Linked DNA regions of Homo sapiens: region 1 is linked to region 2. Evidence: fine-mapped expression QTL. A gene starts in region 2. The other region holds a variant in brackets. All regions are shown on one strand. Distances are between the middles of the regions. Region 1 overlaps RABGAP1L (RAB GTPase activating protein 1 like). Region 2 holds the start of GAS5 (growth arrest specific 5).

What was found. PIP is the estimated chance that this variant, and not a neighbour inherited with it, causes the effect.
Region 1: its variant is fine-mapped to the expression of GAS5 in whole blood (TOPMed, PIP above 0.99).

Annotation. Positions count from the first base shown.
Region 1 is chr1:174,497,569-174,500,486 of GRCh38, reverse strand. All of the region lies in intron 13 of RABGAP1L (RAB GTPase activating protein 1 like), which reads right to left. Among named protein-coding and RNA genes, the nearest start is that of GPR52, 51 kb to the right of the region's middle. The variant A/T (reference allele first, on the strand shown) is at 1,223.
Region 2 is chr1:173,866,396-173,869,313 of GRCh38, reverse strand. It overlaps GAS5 (growth arrest specific 5), which reads left to right and starts at 1,325. Exons shown (of 12, transcript NR_002578.4): 1 at 1,325-1,354; 2 at 2,271-2,323; 3 at 2,518-2,553; 4 at 2,747-2,786. ZBTB37 (zinc finger and BTB domain containing 37) reads right to left here and starts at 934. Exons shown (of 5, transcript NM_001122770.3): 1 at 909-934; 2 at 194-389. SNORD76 (small nucleolar RNA, C/D box 76) reads left to right here and starts at 2,599; the gene lies at 2,599-2,679. It overlaps SNORD75 (small nucleolar RNA, C/D box 75), which reads left to right and starts at 2,376; the gene lies at 2,376-2,435. It also overlaps SNORD74. RefSeq lists an enhancer at 1-855 and a silencer at 490-899.

The DNA.
Region 1 (2,918 bases), 630 kb before region 2:
CAAGTGAACAAATCAAACTAACAGAGCCTCACACTTTAAATGAATGATACATTGAGGGGGCCAGTATGTGGTACAATGAACAGCGTTCCACTTATAAGAAACCCACCGGCTGAGCTCAGTGGCTCACACCTGTAATGCCAGCACTTTGGGAGGCCGAGAAGGGTGGATTACCTGAGGTCAGAAGTTTGAGACCACCCTGGCCAATGTGGTAAAACCCTGTCTCTACTAAAAATACAAAAATTAGCTGGGCGTAGTGGTGTGCGCCTGTAATCTCAGCTACTCTGAAAGCTGAGGCAGGAGAATCGCTTGAACCCGGGAGGCGGAGGTTGCAGTGAGTTGAGATCGCATCATTGCAGTCTAGCCTGGGCTACAAGAGCAAAACTCCATCTCAAAAAAAAAAAAAAAAGAAGAAGCCTGCCACAAGTAATTTATACTGGGTAAATCACTTCACTACTCCAAACATAATTTTCTTTCTTGTAAAATAAGAGGTTTGGACTAAATGATCCCCAAATTCCCTTCAGCTCTAAAAGTTTATGATTACATAACTATGACTCTAAACAGTTTAGAAGTTATTAGGGTCTAAAATTAATAACATTATAATATATGAACTTAAAAGAGAGTCCCAGGAACAGAAATTGAAAACAGAGAGAGAAAGCTATGAAAGTGATGTGATATATGTTTCAGATTTGATTTTATTTTCTCACACTATACAACACTAGAACTGTTGTCATTGCTACAATTAGCAACAACTACCATTTACCAACCCTCAATAAGTGCCAGGCACTGCGCTAAACATCTTATCATTTCATCTTCACAATAATTCGTTGAGATAATTGCCATCACTCCCATTTCATAACCAAGGAAACTGAGGCTCGGAATGGTAGCCCAAGGTAACATTGCTTGAAATGGATGAAGCTCTGACTCAGGCCAATGTGTGTTTGATGCCAAAACCCACCACTAAGAATCCATGTTTCTAGGTATCCAAGCTTTCCAATACTATATAAAATAACCTCAATACTTGTAAACATCAAATTGAAATCCAACAAAAAAGTAAAAACAATAATCCACATTTTGTTATTTTCTATGCCAAAATATACCTGTAGTTTTCCTAAATGTTCTAAGTCATATGAACGGTATACACTAATTTGAAAATCTTTGAAGATTACAATCATCTTTCTACTATGCTATTAATTTTAAAATTAATCCACATAAAATAACTTAA[A/T]TTTTTTTAATTTAAGTGTTTTTAACTTAAATTTCTAAGTTCTGTAAAAGATTTAATCAAGAATATATAAACTATAAGAATATATGAACTGTAAGCCACTCCCCATATCATAATGCATTATATGTGGTAGCAATTTTGCATAAAGAAACTCATTTTTAATTTTCCCCCCAGTTCTACTGGATATGTTCATTGTGATATTTTGGCCTTTTGTAAGATTGAAAAAAAATGAGGGGGTAAATAATTACAACTTACTAATAATTAGAAAACCTACTCTACTTATTAAAATAATTCCTAATGTTATCCAAAAGGAATTTAAACTATAAACAAAAATTCTCTACAGAAATCAAAGAAAATAATATCAAATTTATTTCACTAGATAACATATCAAAGAGTCAATTCTTGGCTTTTTGAGGAGAAAGTAATGCTAAAAAGTCACAATTAAAATTTTGTTTCAGGCCAGGCGCGGTGGCTCACACCTGTAATCCTAGCACTTTGGGAGGCCGAGGTTGGTAGGTCACTTGAGGTCGCGAGTTCAAGACCAGCCTGGCCAATAGGGTGAAACCCCATCTTTACTAAAAATACAAAAAAAAAAAAAAAAAATTTAGCCGGGCGTGGTGGCATGCGCCTGTAATCCCACCTACTCAGGAAGCTGAGGCAGGAGAATTATCTGAACCCAGGAGGCAGAGGTTTCAGTGAGCCGAGATCGCATACCACTGCACTCCAGCCTGGGCAACAAAGCAAAACTCTCTCAAAAAAATAAAAAATAAAAAATAAAAATAAAATAACGTTTTGTTTCAGTTTAAATATATGTATTTCCCATATCCATAAGTTCAATAGACCTGGTTTTTCAAAGTCGCACAGTAATAATAACAAATCATTAAAATGAAGCTTGTAAAACCAATTTGAATTCAACAAGACCTTTTAATTAATTAGCATTCCTAAGCAATATGTGAATATTACAAACATAATCACGTATGGTTAATATTTATGGAAGCATATGCATATTTCTATAAATATATGTAGTTAGGTTTACATATACATTCATATATTACTTCACTCTTCTTTTGTTGAATATACTCTTCTCAATTATCATATTTCAAATCTAAATGAAAAATACATATCAGTGAATTCAAAGCTAAAAAAAACTTAAAGGCCTAAATGATATTATCTTTTCCAAGCATAATTTGGAACTTTAAAAATGTGAAATAAAAAAATAAAACTTGTTTTAAAATAAGCCTCTAAGGTAATGCACTTTCAGGGATTTTATCTTTCCTTTTGGGAGGTATTATAGTGATCACTCTATAGATAAGAACTCTGAGATAAAATCAGTCAGTAAAATTAATTTGAAGACAGTCACTGTCAGAGCTACTAATACTGTAACATGTAACTCCCTGACATTAATAGAGATACTCAACAACAGATGAAGTAGCTAATCAGTTTCTTCAGTTAAGCAAATCAATAACCAACCTACACAGGGTTCTTGGAATCTTTTGTTCAAATGACAAGGTCACTGCTCTTTATAAGCAGTCTTTGTTGGACTGAGAGAGAGAAAATAAAAACAGCAAGGGAATCTGTAAGAAGCTGCCAATGACAAAAGGGCAAAGAGTGGGAGGGAAAGAGGAGCATAAGAACAGGCTCAGAGAATCAGTGTGCCAGAAAGACCTCAGGCAATAAAAGGAGGGAAATAGAATTCATG
Region 2 (2,918 bases):
TAAATCCGAACAGGAAGACATTTACTTAAGCCCAATGTGCGTTCACTTATCTATATATTACATAGTTACACCACACCTGAAACTTCAGGAACTTACTCTGCCAAGCTCACAGTACTGCCCCGCATTAACAACACACTTATTAAATAGGGAAGTGTATACACTGTTTTCAACAATCAACTTTAGCCAATCTGACCTTTTTCCAAAGCGTTATTGTTTGTTTTGAAACTTTTAATCCAATAAGAGCCTCTGTCGATGCCATCATGAATTCAGATGTGTTTATTTTGGAGCCTACACCAGCGCCTTTTTTGTTTGCTCTTTCCGGCAATTCCCCAGTGAGGAAGCCCCTGGAGGAAAGTCTTTCGCTACCGTCGGCACTGGAGGGGTGAGAGCTGTAAAAGGGAGAATTGGGAACGGCATGGGGTTGGCCACTCCAGCACTTGAGCAGCTTTCTTCTGCGTTAGGAAGCCTGGGGAGAGGGGAACTGGCTAAAGGGCAAAATGTCACTGAGGAACTTCGGAGAAGATGGGGACAAGGCGTCGGGCGGGGGAGCCAGCGCTCAGGTGAGAACTAGGAAGGGGGCGGCGCCCAGGGACCGGCTCCAGGCGGCGGCGGGCGGGGAGCTGCCAGGAGGTGGGTGTGCGTATCTGGGTGTGTCCCGGCTGCGGTGGGGGAGGGGGCCGCCCTTCCCGGGGTCCTGAGGGAGGGGCCCCGCGAGGGGGCGGGTCCGGCAGATCAGCCCGGCCGGGGGCCAAGGGGGTGGAAGGTCGCCCGGTGCCTGGAGGCGGGGTGAAGGAAAGTAGCTGAGCGCCCCAGGAGCGCGCTGCGGCGGAGGGCGGGCGAGGTGACCCCGGTGCAGGGAAGTGGCACTGGGGTGTGGGGCCCGAGTCCAGTCAAGGAGCAGCACCTACCTCCGGGGGTGGAAATGGGCCGGAATGGGCCGGAACACCGTCCCGGAAGTGAAATCCCCCACCCCCTCCCACGGAGCGGGCGACGTGCCGGAAGGAAATCACTCAGCCTTACACCGCCCCCCCTTCCCCCATCCCCAGAGCTTTCCTTGCCTCGCGCCCCCTCCCCTCTCTGCTCTTCCTCCTCAGTCGGGAGGAGGGCGGGAGCACGGCATCACGTGGACGGTCATGTCTCTGCCCACAATGGCGAGGAAGGGCGGGGAAAAGGGGCGGACTTAAGGGGTGGGAAGAAGGTGATACTGGATGAGAGGAAGATTGAGGGAGGTTAGGGGGAGGAGCCGAAGCGGACGCTGCCGGGAGCGTGCGTCGTGACGTCATCAAAAGAACTCTTATATACAGGAGCCCAGGCACCATACTGTCTTTTCGAGGTAGGAGTCGACTCCTGTGAGGTATGTTTTATCTTTGCGAATGTTGCGGGTTTTGGGGCGCTCCAGCCTTTGTCTGCTAAGGTCACCCTGAATTGACTGGGACTTCTAAGCCAGTCGCGCGCCTTTGCAGGGCCTACAAGTTGAGGATGGTGGGGGATTGCACATATGGTGCATGCGTGACCTAAGCTGCGACTATGTTAGAGTAGAACTGCGGAGAAGCCTCGGCTCTCGTGCCCTGCCTCTGATGAAGCCTGTGTTGGTAGGGACATCTGAGAGTAATGATGAATGCCAACCGCTCTGATGGTGGCACATGCCGAGTCACCCGAGTAAGCTATTGTTAAGGGCCGTGACCCGAGCCTCCATCAGCCGTCCGCTCTCATGAAAGGCTGTCGGTGGTAGTCCACGTGCTTAAGTGCCTGCATTCCGCAGTGTCACCAATATTTCCATTAGTGTTTCTTTTTTCTTTTTTGAGACCGAGCCTCGTTCTGTCACCCAGGCTGGAATGCAGTGGCTCGACATCGGTTAATGGCAACCTCCGCGTCCCGAGTTAAGCAGTTCTGCCTCAGCCTCCCAAGTAACTGGGACTACAGGCGCGCGCCACCATGCTAGGCTTTTATATTTTTAGTAGAGACGGGGTTTCACCATGTTGGCGAGACTGGTCTTGAACTCCTGACCTCAGGTGATCCACCAGCCGTGGTCCCCCAACATACTGGGATTACAAGCCGTGAGCCACCGCGCCCGGCCGCCATCGGTGGTTCTTAACTGCGGGTGCAGTGCTTCTTTGTAACATTAAGTGTATCCTTTACCTGTCGCTAGATAATGAATGGTATGTTACCTGCATCATTGGTTTAAAAAGACGAACCGTTTTTTTAAAGAACACTCTTTAAAAAAAAGAACCGTGGAACAATGAATTAAAATCTGTACCTGATCTCTTTAGGTATGGTGCTGGGTGCAGATGCAGTGTGGCTCTGGATAGCACCTTATGGACAGGTAAGAATTGGGGAAAGTATGGTGGGAAGAATGAAATCTAAGAGGTGGTCTCAGCCTGTGATGCTTTAAGAGTAGTGGACAGAAGGGATTTCTGAAATTCTATTCTGAGGCTTTAATGTTAACAGCATTTATATTTAACGTGACTGCTGTGAGGTTCATTCTCACTGTTTTGCTTGCATCTTTTTGTTTTCTAGTTGTGTCCCCAAGGAAGGATGAGAATAGCTACTGAAGTAAGTTGAAAATTCCCTCTCAAAAAGGTTTAAAGCCATTGGATGTGCCACAATGATGACAGTTTATTTGCTACTCTTGAGTGCTAGAATGATGAGGATCTTAACCACCATTATCTTAACTGAGGCACCCAAAATGGTGAGTTGGGGAACATAGAGAGTACACCTAAGTTCACATGAAGTTGTTTCTTCCCAGGTCCTAAAGAGCAAGCCTAACTCAAGCCATTGGCACACAGGTGAGACACCTCTATTTTGTACTTCTCACTTTTAAGGGATTAGAAAATAGCCAAAGCAATGATGATTATCTATGTTAGTGCTTCTCTCCCCTCTTTTCAAATGAGAATTTTGCTCTCATATTGATACTAAGT